6 separate regions of the Homo sapiens genome follow, and regions 1, 2, 3, 5 and 6 are each reported to be linked to region 4. Evidence: microRNA targets listed by miRTarBase, many of them from high-throughput screens and not tested one by one. Region 4 holds a microRNA gene; each other region holds the end of a gene's coding sequence. Distances are between the middles of the regions.

Region 1 (4,085 bases), not on the chromosome of region 4:
GGTTTTCTGACTCCAAGCCTGGTGTTTTTGTTTGTTTGTTTGTTTGTTTTCATTTGCACAACATTGCCTTTCCCCAAGAGTACTGGATAACAATGCCCTCCCTCCAAGTCCCAAGTCACTATTGCAGAAGTCAGGACCTTAACACACACATTTCAAAGTTACTGACACCTAGTCAAACCTGGTGCCTTAGCAATGCAATCTTGTAATTTCCCAGGTCAAACAGATCTTCAAGGGTTGCTCTCATGGCAGAATTTGGTGGTAGAAGGAAGGAAGCAGAGTCTCAGTCTTTGTGCAGCTTGTAGGGAGTTCCCTTTTTCTCAAGCCCTTGCAGCATCCTTCCCACTCTAAGCTTAAAGGAGACTGTGTAACCAGCAGTGCTCACCCATCCTGGGCCTGAGTTTGAATCCCAGCTCTGGAGTTCAGCTGTGTGACATGCAAGACCTTGTCCCTCTCTGAAGTCCTTCTGTAAAATGAGGTGGCTGCATTGGGTGATCCCATTCCACACCATGAGTCTATAGTCCTATCATCCTGGGTATACCGACGTCTGGTGGCCAACTTTGGTCCTTGCAGCTAATTCAGGTTTTTTCTTTGTTTTTGAGACATAGTCTCGCTGTGTCACCCAGGCTAGAGTGCAGTGACGCGATCTCAGCTCACTGCAGCCTCTGCCTCCCAGGTTCAAGCGATTCTCATGCCTCAGGATCCTGAATAGCTGAGGAATACAGGCACCTGCCACCACACCTGGCTAATTTTTGTATTTTTAGTAGAGACAGGCTCTCGCTCTGTTGCTCAGACTGGTCTCGAACTCCTGAGCTCAAGTGATCCGCCTGCCTCGGCCTCACAAAGTGCTGGATTACAGGCGTGAGCCACCGTGTCCAGCTCAGTTTTTAATTTTTTATTTTTCAGTATCTGGAGTGTTTAGCACAGCCAGGAAACAAAACACACCAGAGAGGGCCACCTTGCCATGTCACCAACGATGCAATAACTACCGAAGAAAGGCCCCTTGGGTGGCTATGGAGGAGCAGAGGTCAGCAGAGGAGATGGCCAGCAAAGTGCTCTCCTTTGCTCTATTTCTTTTCTTTTGAGACGGAGTCCCACTCTATTGCCCAGGCTGGAATGCAGTGGCATGATCTCGGCTTCTGCAACCTCCATCTCCCAGGTTCAAGCAATTCTCCTGCCTCAGCCTCCCGAGGAGCTGGGATTACAGGTGCCCGCCACCACACCTGGCTAATTTTTGTATTTTTTTAGGTGAGACGGGGTTTCACCATGTTGGCCAGGCTGGTCTTGAACTCCTGACATCAGGTGATCCGCCCACCTCAGCCTCCCAAAGTGTTGGGATTACAGGCGTGAGCCACTGTGTGATTCTTAGCATGTTGTAAGTTTGTCATTGTTCCATTTCCAAAGCATTCCAACCTCCATCCCCGCATGCGTTTGCACTTCTTTAGATTTGTGGGTCTGAGAGCGCATTAGCACCCCATCCACATGCAGTCTCCTGCCCTTCCAATCCTCACCCTGAAAACCTTCCTGTAGTCACAGACCTAGTCATTTTTCCCACGGCTACTCTTGAACTCTTTATGGACCTCTGCGCTCGCTTCCTCTTCTGTGAAAACAAATGAGTTTATGTAGATTAAGATCTAGCCAACTTCTGTAAAGGATCAGATGGTAAATATTTTAGGCTTTGCAGGCTAGTGACTCAACTCTGCATGAAAATAACTGCAATGTGTAAAGGAATGAGCATGGTTGGGCACCACACTGAAATTTGAATTTCATCTCCTTCCCAGGGGCCCCAGAAGAGTCTTCTTCTTCGGACTTTTTCCCCAAGCATTTAAATGTAAAAACATTTCTAGCTTGCAGGTGGTATGAAAATAGGCAGCAGGCTGGAGGTGACTGAGGAGCCTATCTAGTCTTTTTTTTTTTTTTAAACAGAGTCTCGCTCTGTTGCACAGGCTGGAGTGCAGTGGCGCCATCTCAGCTCACTGCAACCTCGGCCTCCTGGGTTCAAGCAAATCTGCCTCAGCCTCCCGAGTAGCTGGGACTACAGTTGCGCACCACCACGCCCAGCTAATTTTTGTATTTTTAGTAGAGACGGGGTTTTACCATGTTGGCCAGGCTGGTCTCAAACTCCTGGCCTCAAGCGATCCATCAGCCTCAGCCTCCCAAAGTGCTGGGATTACAGGCGTGAGCCACTGCGCCTGGCTGTATCTAGTCATCTTTAAAGACCCTCCCATCTCTGAGAACCCATGAAACTGCGCAGTCCTCTGGACTGGAGCTGGGGTGTGTCAAAGGCAAATCTTTGCCTGCCTTCTCAGAACACCATATTCAGAGAAGGCCATTCAGGACAGATTTGTCAGGCTGTTCCGAATGCCCAGGTCTGGGATGAGATGGCCTATCCATGGAGGATTTTTATTTTTTCGAGACAGGGTCTCACTCTGTTGCTCAGGCTGGAGTGCAGTGGTGTGATCTTGGCTCACCACAGCCTCTGCTTCCTGGGTTCAAGTGATCCTCCTGCGTCTGCCTCCCAAGTAGCTGTGTTACAAGAAAGGGGTCCTGATCTAGACCCCCCAAGAGAGGGTTCTTGGATCTCACACAAGAAATAATTCAAGACGAGGCGGTAAGGTGAAAGCAAGTTTATTAAGAAAGTAAAGGAACAAAAGAATGGCTACTCCATAGACAAGAGCAGCGCCTAGAGCTGCTGGTTGCCCACTTTTATGGTTATTTCTTGCTTATTTGCTAAACAAGGGGTGGATTATTCATTCCTCCCCCTTTTGGGACATATCGGGTAACTTCCTGATGTTGCCATGGCATTTGTAAACTGTCATGGTGCTGTCAGGAGTGTAGCAGTGAGGACGACCAGAGGTCACTCTCGTGGCCAACTTGGTTTTGGTGGGATTTGGTTGGCTTCTTTACTGCAATCTGTTTTATCAGCAAAGTCTTTATGACCTGTATCTTGTACGGACCTCCTGTCTCATCCTGTGACTTAGAATGCCTCCACTGTCTGAGAATGCAGCCCAGTAGGTCTCAGCCTCATTTTATTCAGCTCCTATTCCAGATGGAGTTGCTCTGGTTTAAATGTCTGACAGCTGGGACTACAGGCACACACCACCAAGCCCAGCTATGTTTTGTATTTTTTGTAGAGATGGGGTTTCACCATGTTGCCCAGGCTGGTCTCGAACTCCTGGGCTCAAGCAATCCACCCACCTTAGCCTCCCAAAGTGCTGGGATTACAGACACCCAACCCATTTGGAGGATTTTTTTTTTGAGATGGAGTCTCGCTTTGTTGCCCAGGCTGGCGTGCAATGGTGTGATCTTGGCTCACTGCAACCTCCGTCTCCCAGGTTCAAGTGATTCTCCTGCCTCAGCTTCCCAAGTAGGTAGGATTACAGGCGCCTGCCACCATGCCCAGCTAATTTTTGTATTTTTAGTAGAGACGGGGTTTCACCAAGTTGGCCAGGCTGGTCTCGAACTCCCGACCTCAGGCGATCTGCCCACCTCAACCTCCCAAAGTGCTGGGATTACAGGCGTGAGCCACTGTGCCCTGGCCAGATGTTTTTTTAAAAGAGAGAGAAAGAGAGAGAGAGAGAGAAAGAGAGAGAGAGAGGGAGAGAAGGAAACTTTGCACTCTGTTATCTTCAACCTCTTACTCTACCTTCCTCCCTAGCCGAAGTCCCAGTCCTAAAGCCTAAGAGACCCTCATTGGAACTTGACTTCTGCATAATCCGCCTGGGTGCCCTTGGGCATCCGGGCCTCAGGCCTGGGTCTGACGCCTGGGAAGTTGAGCGTGGCATAATGGAGCTCCTCTTGGCTCTCCTGGGATTCTGGGGCTTGAGTGGATGATTTGGGTTCTGGGAAACTGGGCAACTGATACTGCTTTTTCTGGTTCTTCTTTGATTCTGGGGAGGGAGCACCTGGTGGAAGAGGGGTCCGAGGACTGTTTGGTGTGGCTTTCTGATTCCGCTTCTGAGCCTGAGGGAAGAACCACCATCCTTCATTCATTCATTCAGCAAATATTTGAGCACTTACCACGCGTCGGGCACTGATTTACAGCACAGAGTGAAACTAAGTCCCTGCCCTTGCCTTGCTGAGCTTGC
Region 2 (4,085 bases), not on the chromosome of region 4:
AAATAAAGTTCTCATGGTCCCCAGCCCTGAAAAAACAATAAAAATAGGAAACATTAAAGAAAAAGATAAATTAAGTAAAAGCTTTTGATTTGATGAGGAAAAACAGTCACTGCCGTAGAGTGGCCTTGTACAGACACAGCCAGGGTGCTGGTGACATGGGACGTGTGAGGTCGGGGTATACTGGGCAGTGCCCAGGGCAGCAGGGCCCCTGCAGAGGTGGCTTCCTGGTCCACCCCGAGCTTTCCCGGGATCCAGCCCGCTAGCCCACAGCAGCAATCCCTGTGCTTCCCTCCCCCTGCAGGTGTGGCGGGCTGGGGCTGGTGCTGGCCAGCGCGGGCTTCGGCATGCTGACGGCACCCATCATCGAGCTGCACAACCAGAAAGGCTACTTCCTGCACCACATCATCTTTGCCTGCTGCACGCTCATCTGCATCATCTGCATCCTCCTGCTGCCCGAGAGCAGGGACCAGAACCTGCCTGAGAACATTTCTAACGGGGAGCACTACACGCGCCAGCCGCTGCTGCCGCACAAGAAGGGGGAGCAGCCACTGCTGCTCACCAACGCCGAGCTCAAGGACTACTCGGGCCTCCACGATGCCGCAGCCGCGGGTGACACACTGCCCGAGGGTGCCACGGCCAACGGCATGAAGGCCATGTAGCCCGGCCTGCGGAACCCGGGGCTCCAGGGTCTGGGGCAGCTTGGGCACAGGTTTACAGACCAGGGACCGAACACGCAGCCAGGGGTGGGAAAGCTGCCTCAGCCAAGCTGAGCCTCTCAACTGGTGTGGGGAAATCCTGTCTTTCCAAAAGTCCAAGGAGCGCGGGTCGGAGGAGACAAACTCTTTGGAAATAACCCTTTCAAGACTTTCTTTTCTGCCGTTAAATGTGTGTATTTATTTTGGTCATTTTTACGAGAAGCACTTTATTCCCTCTCCCTCTCACTGATCACAAATGGAATCACCTCCCTGGGCAGCGAGACGCAGTTGCTCTGGGAAGATGCCACAGTGACCAGGGCCATGGCCGGTCCCTCTGGGGAGATGGGACACGGCTCCTGGCAGCACCCAGGAGCCCCCCAGGCTGCCTGCCTGCGTGCAGAGGCAGGAGAGGACCGTGGAGCGTTTCCGGGACTGCATTTTAGACGGAGTGAAATGTACATGAATTTGGCTTTTGCTAGAGTCTGTGTATGGTTTTTTAAGGTCCTTTTTCCCTTTCTGTTTGTAAGGTAAGAGCTTCTGTTCGTGTGCAGGGAAAGCAGCTCACAGACGCCGTTAAAACCAGCTTCATCTTTCCTTCAGGATCATCCTTTTGTACTTGATGCTGGAAGCTCTTGGAGAAAAAGCTTAAACATTTCACCAGAAATCTTAATTGAGCAGCAGTCATATCGCCACAGCTTTGTGAGTACACAGCTAACAGATGCGTCGAGACCTGAGATGTGCTCGTTTTTATTCCTCCTCTCCCAGATTGGCTCCAGCAGAAAAGTCCCTCGTGCACAGGCAGCTCTTGTGCCGGCACTACTTGAAAACATGGCTACTTTCTAAGCTACAAACCATTAGAAAATAACTCAAAAAGATGGCAGAGGCAAATCCACAGAAGGGGGGCTGCCCTCCACACACACACGCCCGTCACCCACACCTTGAGCACACACCATGAAGATCACCAGCTTGGATGGCCGTCACCTCAGACATCACTCCAGGGAGCACCCGCAGGAGCTGGGCCCCCTCACGCCTGCCTTCCTGGGCCAGCTTCCTGCTTGCAGTCACTCGCATAGCACAGAGGTGGGGCTTCGGGCAGGGAGCGGAGATTCCTCATAGGTGAGTCCAAATGACCTCCAGCCTCTCGAAGGCATCAAGACAAATTGAAAGAAAGCAATAACTCACCAAAGCTCAACGCTGCCCCTGCCTCGACCTCCATGGGTCTCTTCGTGTTCCTCGTTTCACCCCAGAAAGTGGAGGTTTCCTCTTGGCATTTTCGGAGGAAACTTGTAGGACACCCAAGGCGACTAAGAGACAGCCTCCTTGGCAAGGGCAGGCACCACTTTGTAGCAACTTGGGCACCAGCTTTTCTGGACAGCCTGGCTTCTTACTGGCATTGTCCAACTCATCCCTTCTCGAAGCATGTCTTTGCCATGGGCTGTGTCCTTCCAGGGAAATTGTGGTCTCGGGCCTGGGTGAGACAATGAAGTGACTTCCAACCGACAGTTGCTAGAATTCACAGGGCAGAAAAGGGGTTGACCTTCTCCCCTTCTGGCTTTCCACCCGGCCTGCTGCTTGCTGTCGCCACTCATGTCTCCTCCACATGCGGTCCACACATCAGTAAGGGCCTGGAGATGTGTAAAGACACAGCAAGGGGCAAGCAGACTCTTGGCCACGTGTTTCCAGTGGCTGGACCACGCCGACACCTGGGATCTTGAGATACCCAGGAAGGGAGGCTGTCTGGCCAGCCTCTCCCTGCCTCCACTTGCTCCACGTCCAGCTCCTCACCTTCCCTCTTTTTTAAAGTCACATTTCCATGTTTCAACATTAGTTTGCATTCACCTTTACAAAGGCCTTTCTTTAGATCTGTGCAGCCTTTGCGTGCCAAACTTGTGAAATTCCTTTTACCTTTTTTGGAGTACTTGCTATAAAGCCACCTGTCAACAAACCCCCATTATGTACAGAATAGGACCTATCCAGTAGCCAGGCCAGTAGGCAGTTGGGGAAGGTGGGAAGGATCCAGCGAGGCCCCTGAGCCTGCACCTGGACAGGTGTACGTCTGCACCCATCACCCTCAGCACCAGGCCACCCTGCAGTCCACTTACTGTACTGTGTTGTGGAAGGATATGCTAAGTGATGAAAGTTGCGAGCAGTCTCACTGGTCGTGTAAACTTTTTTTTTTTTTTGGAAATTGAAGCTGTAGAGTGCTGCCCGAAATCTCTAGGAAGTTGGTGGCAAGGGACAGCACTCACACTCTTCTGGTCATGATCTCTGATCTCCACCTCAAATGACAATAAAAAACTGGTCCAACGAAGACACTGCTCAGCACTTCAGCCATCAGGACTAATCCATCGATGACTGGAAAAGAGGCTAGCTTTGAGGAAAACAGCCTGGGCTCTTGGGAGCAGAGTCCAGTGGGTGTGAGGCTGACTTGCCGACGGTCGGCAGGTAATGGCTCTCAGCCGGCGAGGCGGTCCCACAGCTCTCCTCCCAGGGCAGCCTGAGGAGGAGGAGGCCGGGTGCCTGTTTGGTGGCAGCTTCAGCCTAGGGATACCTGAAGCTGTTGAGCAACACCTTTATGAAATGTTGCCAGAGCAGCAACACTTCCCTGTGGGCACAGCCCCGGGAAATCCGGTACCAAGTGAGCAAGGTGGCAGGACCCACCCAAGCCTGATACGCATCTGGGCCCGCCGGGCTCAGCAGGGGAGGCTGCTACGGCTGCCCACTTCCCAGCACCGTCTGTCACGCTTGAACCCCTCTGTGCTGTTCCCTTCCTGGCTAATAGGGAGACCCTTCGCAGGCACCCACTGTTTCAACTTGACCCTCCCACCCCCTGCTACTCTCCTCCACACACCCCTCCGTTCCGCTAGCCTACCCTGTCAGCCTTTCAATAAAAGTTATGCACAAATGTGAACACCTGAGATGGAGCTGAACATTTCTTCACTTTGTTCTTTTTCTGAAGTCAAACTCTTATCAAATGCCCTAAAATTATTACCACCCAAGAGAAACAGGAAAAAGGTTACATGTTTTTGTTTACTGAGAGTAAGATCACCTGCATCTGGAAGACGGGCTGGTAAATTGGTTTGGCTACAGAACAGAAAGAAAACAAAAACAAACCTCGTAAGGGAAGTATCACACTCAGACACCACCGCTTCCTAGAGCCAAATGAGCAATCCCAAACTGCAAGTGCCATAAGTGGGCCTGTGAGGTCACACCGCCCGGCCCGAGGTATCGCATGTGCGGGGGAGGTCCACACTACAGCTGTCCTCTCGTCTAGAAGGCACCACCTCGCTTTCATGTCCCGTGTGTTTTGGAAAAGCAGTATGGTGTGTCATGTCTAGCGGCGAACACTTCCCTCCCTGTCCTTGAGGTTGTAATATAAAAACTGTGTTT
Region 3 (4,085 bases), 58 Mb from region 4:
TTTGCCCTGGGGGTCAGTATCTGATCTGATGAGAATGTAAGAGCTGGGGCCAAAACAAGACAAGAACAAGAGATGAGAAATGATAATAGCTAACACTTCCTGGATGCATTGCTAGGTCCCAAGCTTTGCTCTGCACTCTTACACTGAATCTTCAGACGCTAGAATAAAAGCTCCATGAGGGCAGAGACTTTGTTCCTCTGGTTCTCTACTCTGTATCTGCCTTGAGATAGATACTCAATAAATCTTTGATGAATAAAGCAGCTGTGCTGTGAGTAGGTACTTTTAGCCTCGCTTTGCAGTTTTGCAGATGAGTATGCAGATTCTGGGCTGTTAGGTAACTTGCCCAAGGTCACACAGCTGCTGAGTGATAGAGCCAAGATTCAGCCCCAGGCGGTCTGGCCTGAGAGCTTGGATTCTCCACCACCGTGTGCTCCTGCTGTCTGTGCACGTGCTGAGGGGATGGAGAATGTGGTATCTGCCTCCTGTGAGAGGAATGAGTTAGCCAACAGGTAGCTGCGTTTGTCTGCTCAGGCACTTAACCCTCCCTTTCTTCTCAGTGTTTTTCTCGGACAGATCGATTACTCAGACACAAACGGATGTGCCAAGGGTGCCAGTCCAAGACTTCCGACGGGCAGTTTTCTCTATAGGCGCAAGGGGCCCCGGGTGGTGGGAGTGATCAGAAGAACCTGCCGAAGAGCACACCCCCTCTGGTCTGATGGTCCCACCACCGCCCCATGTGAACCTGTCCCACTCCTGGAGGAGTGGACCCAGGAGACCAGAAGAGTGCATCAGGGGACAGTGGCCCCAGAACCTCAGCTCTGTAAATAATCTGAGACTATGAGTATCTCGGGGAAGTTCTTACAGCATTCCTGGGTAGGGGAGCTAGTCCCTGGACCCTTGGCTGAGGTCATAGGTGGGGACTCAAGGTACAGGACCAAGACTGAAGTGTGGCTCCCACAACCTTGGACTCCAGCTGGCAGCTGAAATGGAAAAGATTGGGGAAGGGGATTTGTTTGTTCTGTTCTTGTTTTTGTTTATCCAAAAGCAACTTCAGCGGGTAAACTGTGGATACAGGTAATCCAGAGGCATAAGAGTCCTGGTCCAAAGTAGGGACTATAGCTGGTCCAGCTCTCCCCAAAAATTGGGTTTTTAGTTGCAGTAGCTCCTCAGTGTTTCACAATCCTGCACTTCGCCTCCTTTTTGAGGAAGAATAAGGTCAGGAATGGCAGCTGAGCTTACTTTGGCTTCCTTATACACTGTAGGGACAAAAGGAAAAACGGGGTGGAGCAGACAAGGGCTGGATCCAAAAAGTGGATGGCACCTCTTCCTTCCTCAAGGGAAAAGGAAGAGTTGTGCCAGTGGGTGTTGTCATGGCCCATGTCACATTGGCACCTGATGGCATCAGCTCAAATGCCTTTAGGAGGAAACTTGGGTGAGAGTGGCCCATGAAGCCCTTTTCTTCTTTTTTTGGGGAGTCGGTCTTGGAGATGGTATGTGGCTACCTCGCTGCCATTGACTCCTAAAGTGAGACAGATGTGTTGAGCAAGGAGTCATGGAAGTCAAAGTGGGTTCTCTCTCCTTGTGCCCTCTTAGGAACAACCCAAGACTGGTCCCAAGTTGGCTAACAGCTGCTCAAGAAACAAAGGAATCTGGGGTCTTCTGACATGCCTGTTGAGCAGTAGGAGCTGTTCTCCCTCCCCAAGTCCTATCACTGTATTCAGGTAGAGGAGGTAGGGAGGGGTCTGTCCTTTGGTCCCAAAAAACAAGATCTCGGCTTGCTTCCTGATGGCCATCCCTACCCAACAGAGTGTGGGGGATGGGGGTGGGGGTGCTGCAGAGAAAAGACTAAAGAAGAAACCTAATGTAGGTTCCATTCTTAACCATATTCTTTGCTCCTCTCTGCTCCAATACCACCACCTTGTCCACTCCCAAAAAAGTAATCGGGTGTGTGTGTGTGTGTGAGAGAGAGTGTGTGTGAGATATGAATGCATGTATTTGTATGCTTGCAGGAGATGGCATATTATTGAGCCAAACCCTTCTCTGGCCCTCACCTTCAGGGAGGATGAGTGGAAAATAGCCTCCTCTTGCCCAAACATGAAGGGTGCTTGAGGTCTCAGCAGGAGCTGAAGAACACAATTTGGGGAACAGAAGGGCTTTTGTTTTGGAGGGTTTTTTTTTTTAAGATGAATTCAACAGCCTGGTGGTTAGGATGTTTCTAACCCAAGCCAGGGCTTGTGAACATGAATTTTCTAAGGTGAAATAAACCTTTTCTTTCTGCTAAAGAAAGAATCCTTATGGGAAGTTTTGGGGTTTGGTTGACCCCCACTGTAACCTGACCTGACCTGTGGCGGGTACGGGAACTGTCTTAGTAATCATGGAGACTGGCTGAACCTGAGTGCCAAGCTGTCAGTAGGGTCTGAGATGGGAAACTCCTGAAAGTATGATTTCATTTCCCAGAAAATGTAAAGAATGGATACCAGCAATGATTCCTGGCTGTTACCTATTCTGGAGGGGTGGGGTTGGGGAGGGGGTTGTCCATACCTCTGTGGTATGAGTATTTCAGGGAAAAAGAAAGCAGGCATGGCACCCATTCGATTTTCCCTGACAGCATCTGAGATCCTTTTGGGGAGACGCTGAGGAGTGTTTGCTGCCATGTACTCTTACAGCTCTATGCTGACACTCCCATTTGATGTGGTCCAGAACTTAGACCTCAGTCCTTGGATCAGCCCTGTGGTCCCTGCAAGCAGGGGCATCTTTCTGCATGTGAGCCAGCCCCCTTCCTGTTCAAGGGTTCTGCTGGATCTGGGCTTTTCCTGTCCTTCACTTCTGGGATGATTCACCCCACATCTTCCAGTACCCTGTAAACCATTTTAAAATATTTAGAAAACTATCCTCCCAAAAATGCTTTTGAAAATGAGAGCCCTCTGTCCCTGCCACTTACAGCTAGTCTCTTTGGGATAGGGGTGTATGTGGAGAGATTCATGTAAGTCTCACATGAGTGACCTGTGCCCCTATGTGTACTAATGTGTGTACTGGGTCAGAAGGTGCCCTGGGTTCCCACAGACCTTGGTTTCCTGCCTGGGTGGGTGGGAGGGAGGGAACTTCAGAGAGTATGTGCGAACAGCCATAGCAGAGCCACCCCTGCCAAGGACCCAGTGAGGGAAACTCAGGAGCAGGTGGTTGGTTCAGTTCCCGCGCTGATGTCTGGGGCAGTGCATGTGTGAGAAGAGAGGCGCAAAGCAGTGAAAGGAGTGATTTGGCATCCAGAGGGCCCGGGAGCCCCACGGATACCCCAGGGAAGCCACTGACTCACACCGCTGCAGAGGCTCCTGGGCCCAATGCCCGACCCCTGCTGGCCAGCATGGGGCCTAGCACTGGAAGATGCCTCAGGTGTGTTTGGAGTGGGGGAAACGGAAGTAGGGCACGCTCTCAGAGACCAGGATAGAGAGTCAGGGAACCTGGGAAAGAGTAGTGCCAGTTCCGGGTAGGCTGCTGCACCAGGCCCTACCAGCTCAGGCTATAAACAGTCTGCTTTGCCCCAAGTCTTTTCCGTCCACCCCCAACAGCCTTGTCATCACTTAGCTACTGATCACGCCCATGGCTTGACATTGGAGGGTTACATTAGTGGAGTCCGCCACAGCTTCGAACCCTCTCCCCAGATGCCCTTTGCCTCTGCTGTGGCCCTGGGGTTTTATCAACTGTCCCCTTCCTATCCTCCTCTCCACCCTGTTTTTTGTTTTTTTTTTTTTTAAATAATATTTTGCTATGGGGGAGGGGAATATCAAATGGACAAGATCACTTTTAAATGGTAGTTTTTATAAGATGTTATAAACTTGTATCTTTTTACCATTAAAGTGCAGTGTATGTTCCTTCGTGATATATTTAGGATATTTAAATAAAAGGAAAATGGGGCTTTTCTACATACTATCTCCTCTTTGGGGAAGCTTTTTCATACTGGTTTTAGTTGTTTTCCTTTTTTCTCCCTACATAATCACCCCACAACTTCCAGCACCCTATAAGCCATTTTAAAACCCCTTCTCCACAGAGGAACAAGCAAGTAGGAGCAAAAACAGGGCATCAGTTCT
Region 4 (4,085 bases):
CTGGGCTCAAGTGATCCTCCTGCCTCAGCCTCCTAAGAGGCTGGGACTACAGGCATGTGCCACCATGCCTGACTCATGTAATCCTTTTAATAACCCTATAAAGTAGATGTTAATTGTACAGATGAGGAAACTGAGGCACAGTCAGGTTAAGAATACAGTCAGTTGCCCAAAGGTCACAAGTAGAGACACACATACACAGTAACACATTCATAGAGACTCATTCCAATATTCAAACAGAAAGAGAGACATAGACACCTGGGCCTGTATATGTGGGTGTCAGGTGAAGTGAAAATTATGCTCGCAAGTTCAGGTTCATGGGTGGAGAGGGAAGTCACCCTGGAGCAGACCTGTTATTATGTAAGGAATCATGAATCTCACCCCTTGGTATGTAGAGATCTGGAAATAAGGCAGACCAATTCACATAATGAACCCAAGGCTCTCTGGGAGAGCCAGGATGGAGACTGCTAATATAGGACAGAAGGGTAGGTTGGGGTGGCCTTGATGAAAGTCTCTTGTCAAGAAATGACACTAGGACCCCAAAGAGGCACAAACCAGGAGGAAAGAGAAAGATGAATTGATTAATCAGGCCTAACACAAGAACCTCAGGGTTGATCACCGAAGACTGGCTCTTCATAGCATGTGGCTGGGGTGGGAAATCCCCCTAGAATCACCTGGCATGCTTTGGAAACCAATGGCTGAGTATGAATGTTAAATTTTATCTTGGTATGTGGCCCCACTGCAGTCCTGGTGATGACTGCCTGTTGATATGTTGGCTGGCTCACACTCCTAAAAGTACCCAGTTTTGGGACTGAAAACCAGCAGGGGCATCACCATCCCAAGCATGCACAAAGCTGCTATGACCGGTGTTCAACAGCGACACCTGGTGGCAGCCACCAAAACTGCATGCTGCTGTATTGCCTCAAACTCCCTCTCCCCCATGTCTTTGCTGGTGCATCTGGAAATCAGAATGATCTTTGGTCTGAGGAAGTTCCTGGCATTCTTGGATAATTGGGGATAAGGGAGGCCTCCAAAGGAAGATACTGGAACTCCTGGTAATAAAGGGTATATGGAAACGTGGGCTTGAAAAGTAAAGAACTGTAGCTGTATTTTTATCCTCAGCTGGTGTAGCAGGTCATAGTGATTATGCTCACCGTATGCACAGAGACCCACACACATTCACACTCCCAGTTTCAAATGGATGCACACAATCAACCACAAAGTGTCACCCACATGCTGAAACCTGCAAACTCAGCCATTCCCGATCTTTCCCTCTGCCCTCCCTGCTCACTTCCCCAACCCCATCCTTACCCCACTGGGCCCCTGGGGAGAGCAGCAAGCCAGGCGGATGGAGCTGTTGACAGAGGCCAGCTGTTCCCGGAGACTTTCCACCTCCCGCTGGGCAGCCTCAGCTCGCTGGGGAGAAGGGGACAGTGTGGGCGAGAGGTGAGCCCACTCTGCACTTCCACCTTCTCCCTGCACTGTTTCAGGCAGGGGTTGGGGAGGCAGACCTCCGAGGGCCTCAGGTCCTGCCTTCCTAGTCCCGGACCCTGTCCTGGAGCTATGAAGACCAGTCACAGAGCCCTGTCTGGGCTGGGGACAAGAAATAGCAGCCTCTGGGGTTACTCCTGAGCTGAGAGGACAGGAAGAAATGCCCCTCTGAGGAGGTTCTGGGTTCTCGTGGGGTGCCTGGGACCCCCAGAGGAGTCAGAACATTCCTGCTCTATGAAGGCAGGATGAGAGAGGCTCTCTGGGTGGGACTGGCAGGTTTTCACACATTTCTAGATACTTCTGTCTGCCACATTAACTTCAGGCCTGGCTAGTCTGAAGGCAAGAGCTGTTCCAACTCTCATGCCACCTGGTATGGAATGAGTCCCAGACACGGCATCTGCAAAGGTGCTTTCCCAGGCCACAGGTTATTGCAGCCCCTGGGCAAGTCACTTCCTCTCCCTGGGTCTCAGTTTCTTTTCTTTTCTTTTTTTTTTTTTTGAGATGGAGTCTCACTCTTGTCACCCAGGCTGGAGTGCAGTGGCACAATCGTGGCTCACTGCAAGCTGCCCCTCCTGGGTTCACGAGATTTTCCTGCCTCAGCCTCCCAAGTAGCTGGGATTACAAGTGCACACCACCACACCCAGCTATTTTTTGTATTTTTAGTAGAGGTGGGGTTTCACCATGTTGGCCAGGCTGGTCTTGAACTCCTGACCTCAGGTGATCCACCCGCTTCAGCCTCCCAAAGTGCTGGGATTACAGGAGTGAGCCATCGTGCCCAGCTCAGTTTCTCTTTTTGAAATGGGGAGCAATGAAAACATCTAACACAAAGAGGTTTTGAGTGGTTAAAATCAGAATGCAGCAGTTCACTAAACTGGGTCTATGGTCGATTTTTTTTTTTTTTTTTTTTTTTTTTCGAGACAGGGTCTCGCTCTGTCACCCAGGCTGGAGTGCAGTGGTGCAATCAGGGCTCACAGCAACCTCCAACTCCCGGGATCAATTGATCCTCCCATCTCAGCCTCCTGAGTAACTGGGATTACAGGTGTGCACTACCATGACGGGTTAATTTTTGTAGTTTTAATAGAGACGGGTTTTGCCATGTTGGCTAGGCTGGTCTTGAACTCCTGGGTTCAAGTAACCCACTTGCCTTGGCTTCCCAAAGTGCTGGGATTACAGGCATGAGCTACTGTGCCCAGCTGGTAGATTTCTTTTTCTTTTCTTTTTTTTTTTTTTTTTTTAAGACAGAGTCTTGCTTTGTTGCCCAGGCTGGAGTGCAGTGGCACAATCTTGGCTCACTGCAACCTCCACCTCCTGGGTTCAAGCAATTCTCCTGCCTCAGCCTCCTGAGTAGCTGGGATTACAGGTGTGTGATGCCAGGTCTGTCTACTTTTTGTATCTTTAGTAGAGACGGGGTTTTTCCATGTTGGCCAGGCTGGTCTCTAACTCCTGGGCTTAAGCAATCCACCCACCTCAGCCTCCCAAAAGTGCTGGGATTACAGGCATGAGCCACCACACCCAGCTGGTAGATCTTAATTCTTAAAAAATTTCTACCTGGAAGGAAGCATTCAAATGTTAATACATTTAATCTTGTGGCTTTGGAGAGAAATCTGGGCTCACATTCTGACTTTGCAACTTTCCGGTTATGCGATCTTAGGCAAGAGGCTTCATCTCCCCAGCCTCGGTTTCCCTATTAATAAAATGGGGATTATAAAGGCAACTATCTCATAGGGTTGTTCTGCAAATGAAGTGGTTTGGCCAAATGCAATTTGGTAGATATCTTTGCTTGGTGCCTGGCACATATAAATGCATCAATAATTGGTTAACTTTGTTAACATCATGAGGGTATATTACTTGAGCCATTACTTAGAGAATTAAAAGAGCTGTGGCTGTATTTTTGCCTTTGGCTGGTAATGCAGGTCATAGTGATTATGTTTAACTACATAATGACCTGGACAATCAGGATGCTATGCCCAATGTATGCATATTGAGACCCATACACATTCATGTTCACATTTGAATTTATTATTTATTTATACGTATCTTGCCTTGTTCCAGAAATGGTTCAAGTCAATTTTGTTTTGGGAAGAGTTTCCTGGTATGTGGGACTGTAAAGGAAATATTTTTATGTTTCTGTACAGTTAGGGAACCCTGAGCATATCTGATTGAAAGCTGAGATCTGGACTAAAGGACAAGCCTTGAAAATTCAACTCATGGCTGATTAGCTACTGAGAACCCCAGAGGTTTCCTTCCCTGGAGGTTTATGTGTTTAGACATCAAGGGTGGGTGAGACCCACATCATGGAGACAGCCCCTGAACAGTAAAGCTGGGTTTTAAAGCAATTAGCTGGGGCTGGGCATGGTGGCTCATGCCTATAATTCCAGGACTGTGAGAGGATTGCTTGAGACCACGAGTTTGAGACCAGCTTGGGCAACATAGCAAGATACCATCTTGACAACAGCAAGAAAAAATTACGGCTGTGGTGGTGTGAGCCTGTAGTCCTTGCTACTTGGGAGGATCCCTTGAGCCCAGGAGTTTGAGGCTGCAGTAAGCTAGGATCTTGCCACAGCACTCCAGTCTGGGTGACAGAGCTGGACCCTGTC
Region 5 (4,082 bases), not on the chromosome of region 4:
CAAGATGAGGGCCGAGTGAGCTGAGGGAAGGAAGGGCATTCCAGGTGGGCACGGCATGTGTGCAGAGGTGGCAAGGGAGCACCGCTTGCCTGGGCACCAAGAATGAAGTGTCCCTCTATATGGCCGAACTCCACTCAGCAGAGCTTTCTTGAGCCTCTGCTCTGTGTCCAGCACTCTACCAGGCCCTGGGGACATAGATGCCCAGAACCCACCCTGGTCCTTGAGGTATTTTGGGGGCCCAGGCAGCAACCATACAGAATATGGCCAGGGCAGAAGGAAGCAGGGTCTGGAGTTGCCATGAGGAGGCCCTAACTCGGCCCAGGGCTCCGATGAGGTTCCCAGGAGGCTGAGTGACAGATGAGAAGACTTGAGCCAGACTGTAGGAAAAGGAGGTGTTGTTGGGGCAGTCACTCCTAAGAGAGGGGCTGACACATGCAAAGGCCCTGAGGAGAGTGGACACATGGGTGCCAAGCTCAGGGGCACAGGTGGTTTTCTGTGGCTGCAGAGTCCCAGGGGACAGCAGATGAAGGCGAAGCTAGAGTGCTCAGCAGACACCAAAGGGGCCTTGAGTGCCAGGCTCAATGTCGACCTGAGCCCAGTGGTTTCATCAGCCTCCAAGTGCCCCGCTGGGTGGTGCAGCCTTCCTGCCCCATCTGTCACCCATCCTCACGACTGCCTCCTCCCCGACTCACATTCTGTCTCCCTCTGGCCCAGCAGAGATCAGCGATGGTGTAGAGGTCTCCGATGTGCTCTCCGTATGTTCAGACAACAGTTATGACACATATGCCAACAGCACCGCCACCCCTGTGGGCCCCCGAGGGGGTGGCAGCCACACCAAGACCCTCATAGAGCGGAGTGGGCGTTAGCTGAAGACATGTCTGTCCCACCTGTACCTGACACAGAAGCTGGGGAGCCTAGGAGAGCTGGTGGAAGTGTGTCTGAACTCGGAGTGCTCTGGGAGCGGGCTCCACAGCCTCCTTGTGGGCTCCAGCCCCTTGTCAGCCGCAGCCTCTCTTGAGGGGGACTCCCTGTCTCCTGAGGCCCAGCTGGGCCAGGACTCCATCCTTTCAGATGCCCCTGCAGGCCTGGGGCTCCTTCTGGGAAGTATGGGGCCTAGGGCTTGGTCCCCCTCTTCTGAGGCCCTCTCCTGTATCCCGACCTGGAAGCTTTGATGGGTCATGGGCCATGCCATACCCCCTGTGGCAATGGAGTGTGTGGATGCTCACCTGTGCCATCTGTCCTCCTGTCTGTGCCAGGAGGCACCTGAGTTCTCTGCTGTTATCCTGCCCCAAGGGCCTGGGCCGAGCCTCTACCTGAAGCAACTCTGCTCTTCCTGTCAGTCTCAAAGCACAAGGAGGTTCAGCCCAGGAGGAAGCCAGCTGCAATGTGGAGACACGTCCTCCTCCCCAACCCACCTCATGCCACCGCCAACCCCCTGCCCCAGGAGCGGGCCTGAGCCACGTCCTCTAGGAGCAGCTGGAGATGGCCAAAAGAGTGAGCTCAGGACTACTGGATCCCATGCCCAGGTGTCCAGCAGACCTCAAGGCAGAAGGGTCACCTAACCCAGGAGTCCACAGACTGATGTGACCTCAGGTTCCCACATCAGTGGCCACAGGGCAGGGCCCACCTGGTAGAAGTGTTCTGGATATGGCCAGGGTGGGTGTGTGGCTAAGTGGGCCTGAACAGAGGGAACCTAGGGCCCTTGGCCAATGTGATTAAAGCTGCCATCTTGATGTGTGTTGTCTCTGAATTGCCAGCAGGAGGGTGGGGACAAGTGCGCTGGGTCTAGGTTTCAGTTCTGACCCTATAATCTGAGGAGGAACCATTCTCAGGAATGAATGGGAAAGTGGCAGAATGGTGCCTCCCCTTCCCTGGGTCCGCCATGGTGCCAGTGGCTGGGAGCCGGTATCCTCATATGGTGGATGGGGAGACAGTCTTGGAGAGGTAAAGTGACCTCCAAAAGCCACACAGCTTAGAACAGGCCAAGCCAGAATCCCATCCAGACTCTGGCCCCAGCGCATATGTGTGCCTCCCATAAGCTAGGAATGACACGCAGAGGGGGAGGGCTCCTGGGTCCAATGTAGGGCTGGGAGTGGGACTGGCAGGTGCCCTCACAGCCACATGAAGGCATTCTGAACCTCCCGGCTATGTTGGGACAAGCCCTCAGCACAGGGAGGCCTCTTCCCCATGCCAGGAGTTTGGCTTTGACTTCTCCGAGCTTTGGACCTGCCTGAGGAGGGCCCATGCCCATGCCCAGGACTGGGGGCACCTGAGCTGAAAGCCAAAGTACAGCCCTGGGACCACAGGTGTCCTTTCCTTCCAGTCCTTGGGACCTCTGCTGTCTGTGGGCAGGAGTCAGTGGTGGTGTCAGAGCAGGCCTGTAACTCCCCTCTTTGTCCTGAGAGTCTGCCTGGTCATGGGTGTGACCTGAGGGAAAAGGGGGAAGCTGAGCCCCAGCTCCAGCCTGCATCAAATTAACTCCATGCTTCCTGGGAGCCAAGGGACGTGTCTCTTCCAAACAGGGATCTTCTGGATAGAATTCTTGGGGTCTAGGAGATTCTGGCACCTTATAGGTAAAAAAGAAAAGAGCCCTCTGCAAATGTTGGAAGCTCCACTGGGCCCCCACAGTAACCTCGAGGACCGGCCCTCCTGCCCCTGCTACTGAATGTCTGGCAAGTGCTCTGCTTCCTGGGGCAGAGGTCAGCTCCCGCCTCTCCCTGAGCTCAAGGGAATGAGACTCAGAGCCACTGTGCCCCCCGCCCCACATGCTTAGTCACATTGGCATCTACATGGTCACACAGCCACATGTCCACACGCAGCCCAATGCTACACAGTCACTTCATTCCATGTACTTCCACAATCACGCATAGTCACCCTGAAACCTACATGCCTACAACTGCATGATGACACCCCTCCCACACCCCAACTCCAGCACCACACACCTTCGAACCCATCGTCATTCCGGGACAAGGCCAGCACCAGGTCACCCCCAAACCCAGGCATACCAAATCCTGGAGTTCCACACACAGTCAATCCCACTCTTATGCCCCCCCTTTCTTTCCCTCCCTCCCAGGGCTAGTCCAAGAGTGGAACAAAAGCCCAGCATCCCCCTCCCTGCTCGCTTCTCCCTTCCCCTCCCTTCCCCTCCCTCCTGGCGTCCAGCCCCTTTGTCCTCCCGCAGCTGAGCCCGAGCGAACAGCAAACGGGAGTCTGGGCAGAGCAGCATGAACACTGGAGCTTGGGCTGCCAGGGGTGCGGGCGGCAGGCACAAACGGGAGTGATACCTGTGAGAGCAGCAGCTGCGGAGCACTTGGGAGAGGGTATGGCCAGGTAAGTGCCAGGTGCATGGGGCAAGGCTTAGGCTGCAGGGCTGACCCGGCTGCGTGGTGTCCGCAAGTCTGAGATGGGGAGGATGCGGAGGAGGTGCTTGGGTAATGGCTTCAAGTGGATGTGGGTGTGTAAAAGAGTGATGGTGGCATGTTCGAGTCAGCTTCTATAGGCTGGGCCCTTCAATCTGCATCATGACCCCTGGCTTGAAGTGCCTAGACTCAGCCGAGAAGGGAGGATACCCATTGAGCCCTACCTGGGAATTTTTACCTTCTGTGTTCCAACTGGGTGTCGTTTGACCCCCAGACTGGGGATCCCCAGAGTGAATGCTGGATCTGATGTCACTGTGTGTCCAGAGTGCCCAGCGCAGTAGACAGTAAAATGAAAAAGTACTGACACACTTCCTAGGAGGGGACTCTTTCTCCCCCAGGGAGCTGCTTGTGCTGTGGGGCACCTTTGCAAGAAGTCCATCCTTATGCTGATGAGACCTGCCCTCTTGAGTCTCAACTCAGAGCATGGTTGTGCTTTCTGAGCCAGTGGAGGACAGACTGGTTGCAGCGTGCTGTGATGACCGGTCTCACTTCCTTCCACCGGTCCTGGCTGCTCCTTGGGACACACCCCCACCCTGGCAAGTGTGGCATGCAAACCCTGGAGCCAGGTGGATTCAGGATCCAGTCGCTCTACTTGGGCAAAAGTAGTTAACTTTCTTGCCCACCAGGGAGCTCATCTCTCATGATGCTGACCAGGGGATCCGC
Region 6 (4,085 bases), not on the chromosome of region 4:
CTGGGTGACAGAGCAAGACTCTGCCTCAAAAAAAGAAAAAAAAAAAGTTACTAACAGCTGGGCACAGTGGCTTACACCTGTAATCCCAACGCTTTGGGAGGCTGAAGTGTGAGGGTCACTTGAGTCCAGGAGTTTGAGACCAGCCTGGGCAACATATGGTGAGATCCCATCTCTACAAATTAAAAAACATATTATTAAAGAAAAAAAGAATTTGGTCAACTTAGTTTAAAAAAAAGAAAAAAAAAGAGAAAAAAGTTACTTTTTTCTATTTTATTTCTTATTTATGAATGTAGTGTCATTTTAATATAATTAAAAGCATATTAATCTGACACCAAAGGGGAAACTCCCTTGCCTCAAGGAAGAATGGGGATGCCAAATGACCCTGGACCCCGGAAACCCTGTCCAGGAGCCCCCACAAAGATGGGCCCAGTCTAACTTCAGAGGAAAGGAGTGAACTCTGATTAGAAGCTTAAGAGCTGAGTTTGAGTTCTGTCTGCCACAGCTAGCACTGTGGGAAGATCGCCTAAGAAAACTAAACCCCAAATCCCAGTTCATAAAATAAAGCTGAGACATCTCTCGCACAGTTCTCCTTGTGCCTCTGCTCACACAGACCCAGACAGTTTTCCTCAAATGCCACTTTTTTTTTTTTTTTTTGAGACAGGGTCTCACTCTGTCCCCAGGCTGGAGTGTGGTGGCGCCATCATGACTCACTGCAACCTCCACCTCCTGGGCTCAGGCAATCCTCCCACCTCAGGCTCCTGAGTAGCTGGGACTACAGGTGCACGCCACCATGCCTGGCTAACTTTTTTTATTATTTGCAGAGACGAGGTCTCACTATGTTGCCCAGGCTGGTCTCAAACTCCTGGGCTCAGGCGATCCTCCTGCCTTGGCTTCCCAAAGTGCTGGGATTACAGCTGTGAGCCAATGCACCCAGCCTCAACTGCCACTTCTGACCTTGGCTTCCCCCGGGCTGGGCCACAGCTCTTCTGTGGCAGCTCTGCTCTTCCTACCAGCGTTTCCTTGTCACCTTGACACACCCATTCCCTCCCTGCCCGCTCCCTGCTCAGAATCCTCTCTGTAGCCCCTTCAAGAGAACTCAAGGTTCTCTTGAACTACAAACTCCAGCAGGGGGTCCCTGGAGCCCAGGTTAAGGCTGCCGGCAGTCGCATACGGATCCCCAGGGGAAGGGGCGCCCTCCTCACTCAAAGCTCACCTGTTCAGGTGAGAGCCTCAAAGCGCCACTCTACAGCTCCCCTGGTTAGGTCAGTTCTCCCCACAGCCAAGGCCCAGCGTGTCCACCAATCGTCCAGCCGGAACAAACTAAGACACACTTTCTTTGGCAAGATAGAATTTTCCACTTCTCGCCAAATCCCACAGCGCAAACCCCGCCCGTCAGCATGGAGGGCAGACTGGGTCTCCGCACTGTCATGTGAAGGTGTCCAAAGCCGCCCCAGCTGGAGAAAGGCCGGAGACCGAAGTCCCTCCCGCGGGCTTCCTGCGTCCGGGGATTAGGAGGCACAAAGGGCCGGCAGGGACACAGCCCAGATGGCAGGGGCAGGGGCTAAGCCGCCGGGGCACCGCGCTCCGGCCGCCGCCCGTGGGGAGGGGGTCACCGCAGACGCGCGTCGCCAACCCCGCTGGCCTGGCGCCTGCACGTGGGCCCGGGGACTCCGTCTCTGCCCGCGGTGCCCCCCGCACCCAGCCGGCCGGGGCACCTGTTCTCCTGCTCTCCTAAGCCAACATTATTGTGCAAACCCAAGCCCAAGTTTCAGTCATCGCGCAGATCAGGCAGAGAAGTTTCCCGCAGAACTTTCTACAGGTGTCTCTCTTCCAGGCCAGCACAGCGACGCGGACAGGGGCGAGGCGCGCGGACCTGGGCGCAGCCCTCCCGCCCTGGCCCGACAGCCCAGGGGTCCTGGGCCTCCCTGGCCTCCCCGCCCCAGGTGGAAGCCCCGAGGGGGCGGGCCCGGCTGGGCGAGTCCGGCACGCATCTCACCTGGAACCCCGGGCCAGCCCCCGCCCGAGGCCTCGGCGTCCCTCGGCGCCCGCCGCCGGCCCCGCTCGCTCCGCCGCGCCTGCCCACGGGCTGCTGGGCGGCCGTCTCCTTCCTGCTCACCTCCGGCGCGGCGAGCCTGGGGCGGAGCCGCGCTATTTACATAAAGGGCGAGCCTGCCGGGGCCCAGCGCCCCGCCCCCGGCCCGCCCCCCAGCTCGGCGCCGCAGGGGCGGGGGCACCCTCGGGGGTGGGGGCTGCGCTCCTGCCAATCCGCGGCCCCGGGAAGCGCGGGGCGGGGCCTCGCGAACGGCCTCGGGGTTCCGCAGGCCCGCCCCGGCCTCACCTGCGCGCACCTGGACGCAGAACGGCGCGCCGCGCCCAGTGTCCCGCCGCCTCCCGCAAGCGGAAATAGTTCCCGGAACGCCTGCGGTCCCGGGCCGCCTCCCAGACTCCAGGGGAGCCGTCCCTCCAACTCCCGGGAGCTGCCGAGGGAGGGGCGGATCCGGGCCAGCTCCTCTGCCAGAGCCCAGCCCAGAGAGGGTGACCGGGGGACGCAGGGCCGGGTTTCCAGCCCCACGAGAGGGATGGTGTAGGGACCGGGGCGTCGCGGCGAGACGCCTTTCCTCGGGGGGGGGTGCGGGGGGGCGCCCACCTCCTCCGTGTCGGCCGGAGGGTCTGCAACAGCGGGTGGAATTTTTAGCACAAGCGAGGGAGGAGGTTGGAGCGACGAGAGGCGGGAGCGGAAAGGGCGCGGAGGCCGGGGCTGCAGCGCGCTCCACCGCCCAGCTGCAGGTGGCGCCTCTCGCCACCCGCACCCCGCTGCGCCCAGGGAAGGGCCGATGGCGCGCCGTCCTCCCTCCTCCCTTCGGGAAGCCTGCGACGTCCCATCCCCTCCGACGCAGGCCCGGGAAAGGCTCAAAAGGTTCGAGGTCGCGTTCCTGCTATCCCGCGGGCTTCTCTCACTCTTAGATCCCGCACCAGAGGAAGCGGATCTCCTTGAGTGGGCAAAGCAGGGGTGAGGGGCTGGGGGCAGTTCCACTGACAACGGGACGGGGGCGAGAGGGGTTTACCCAGTACATACAGAAACAGCAGAAAAGAAATCTATTTTTAATGGCTTTGGCTTTATAGCACGAAGCAGGCACCCTCTCGTTAAAGGCACACAGTCCTCTCTTCTGCCCCACCTCCTGGGTCCTTAAAATCGAGTCCTGAGTTCCAGAGGGGTCACTGCAAGGCAGCAGGGAAGGGAGAGGGTCACAGTTTCACTCTGTGAGTATCAGACACCCAGGGCCAAGGCCCAGACTGGCCTCTGAAGCTACAGGTTAGAGTCTGGGTACAGGAGGCAGCCGAGATGGTCCCTGAGAACAGACAGTCCCGGTCCCCCGGAGCAAGCTCCATCCTCTGCAGAGCTGTGAGGTCAGTGCCCCACATCCTGGGGCAACGTGAAGTCCCTGAAGCTGTAGAAGGAGATGTCACCATGATCCACCAGGGCAAAGATCAGAGGGACATCCCCACTCTGGTAAGACAACCGCTTGAGGCTGCAGAGGTCTGGGACAGGCTCATCAAATCTGCAGGGACAAAGGGTTAGAGTGAGACCCAGCCATAGCCCACTCCTAAGCTCTAGGGCTCCCAGAGAAGAGATTCTACGGAAGGAGTTGGGGTGCAAGAATTCTGACCCATGAGTTCTGTCTCCAAAACACAGGGCTCTGATGAAGAGCGCCCCAGAGCACTGGTTGGGGAGGTGCTAGGAAGAGCAAGGTGCTCACCACTCTTAGCCTGTAAATCCCCACAATCCACATCCCTTCTGCTGGGTGAGTCCTAGACTAAAATGGCATTGGAGAAAGACTACCCTAAAATGCCAGCAACGAGGAGCTCAGAGTAGGGCAGCACAAACTGGCTGTGTGGCCTTGTGTAGGTCACTTAGCCTCTCTGGACCTCCTGTTCCTCTCAGAGATTGGCACGCTGGCCAGGGGAGTACAGAGGAGTCCCACTTGGTTCACAGGAGAACTGGCAGCAGCTGGGGGAGGGGCAGTGCTGGCTCACTGCGTACCCACTAATGCACATCCGGGCATAGGGTTTGCCAGGGTTATTCT

What was found. The annotated mature microRNA hsa-miR-6760-5p reads CAGGGAGAAGGUGGAAGUGCAGA and lies in region 4 at 1,454-1,476, opposite strand. An mRNA with a match to its seed (bases 2 to 7 or 8) in the 3' UTR can be bound and repressed. Matches are read on the target gene's strand: a 7mer-m8 pairs with bases 2 to 8, a 7mer-A1 pairs with bases 2 to 7 and ends in A, and an 8mer does both.
Region 1: miRTarBase lists SIGLEC10 as a target of hsa-miR-6760-5p. Seed matches in the 3' UTR shown: 7mer-m8 at 3,594-3,600.
Region 2: miRTarBase lists SLC22A23 as a target of hsa-miR-6760-5p. Seed matches in the 3' UTR shown: 7mer-m8 at 931-937 and 7mer-m8 at 2,443-2,449.
Region 3: miRTarBase lists ZNF740 as a target of hsa-miR-6760-5p. Seed matches in the 3' UTR shown: 7mer-m8 at 1,690-1,696 and 8mer at 3,979-3,986.
Region 5: miRTarBase lists GDPD5 as a target of hsa-miR-6760-5p. The part of its 3' UTR that is shown has no 7-base or 8-base seed match.
Region 6: miRTarBase lists TSEN54 as a target of hsa-miR-6760-5p. Seed matches in the 3' UTR shown: 7mer-m8 at 3,237-3,243.

What each region holds. Positions count from the first base shown.
Region 1 is chr19:51,407,412-51,411,496 of GRCh38, forward strand. SIGLEC10 (sialic acid binding Ig like lectin 10) reads right to left here. Exons shown (of 11, transcript NM_033130.5): 11 at 2,609-3,960. The coding sequence ends at 3,688. Among named protein-coding and RNA genes, the nearest start is that of SIGLEC10-AS1, 6.3 kb to the right of the region's middle. RefSeq lists enhancers at 472-521, 1,539-2,039.
Region 2 is chr6:3,269,629-3,273,713 of GRCh38, reverse strand. It overlaps SLC22A23 (solute carrier family 22 member 23), which reads left to right. Exons shown (of 10, transcript NM_015482.2): 10 at 302-4,085. The coding sequence ends at 659. Among named protein-coding and RNA genes, the nearest start is that of PSMG4, 13 kb to the right of the region's middle.
Region 3 is chr12:53,186,944-53,191,028 of GRCh38, forward strand. ZNF740 (zinc finger protein 740) reads left to right here. Exons shown (of 7, transcript NM_001004304.4): 7 at 558-4,085. The coding sequence ends at 647. Among named protein-coding and RNA genes, the nearest start is that of CSAD, 8.1 kb to the left of the region's middle. RefSeq lists a silencer at 3,142-3,436.
Region 4 is chr12:111,301,538-111,305,622 of GRCh38, reverse strand. It overlaps MIR6760 (microRNA 6760), which reads right to left and starts at 1,481; the gene lies at 1,414-1,481. CUX2 (cut like homeobox 2) reads right to left here. Exons shown (of 22, transcript NM_015267.4): 10 at 1,309-1,413. The region is part of intron 2 of LOC105369983 (a long non-coding RNA gene); the gene reads left to right.
Region 5 is chr11:75,432,291-75,436,372 of GRCh38, reverse strand. GDPD5 (glycerophosphodiester phosphodiesterase domain containing 5) reads left to right here. Exons shown (of 17, transcript NM_030792.8): 17 at 718-1,733. The coding sequence ends at 866. It overlaps KLHL35 (kelch like family member 35), which reads left to right and starts at 3,170. Exons shown (of 7, transcript NM_001039548.3): 1 at 3,170-3,330. RefSeq lists an enhancer at 3,646-4,082.
Region 6 is chr17:75,523,737-75,527,821 of GRCh38, reverse strand. TSEN54 (tRNA splicing endonuclease subunit 54) reads right to left here. Exons shown (of 11, transcript NM_207346.3): 10 at 4,043-4,085; 11 at 3,087-3,560. The coding sequence ends at 3,410. LLGL2 (LLGL scribble cell polarity complex component 2) reads right to left here and starts at 2,125. Exons shown (of 26, transcript NM_001031803.2): 1 at 1,997-2,125. RefSeq lists silencers at 2,419-2,603, 1,920-2,639, 2,660-2,759.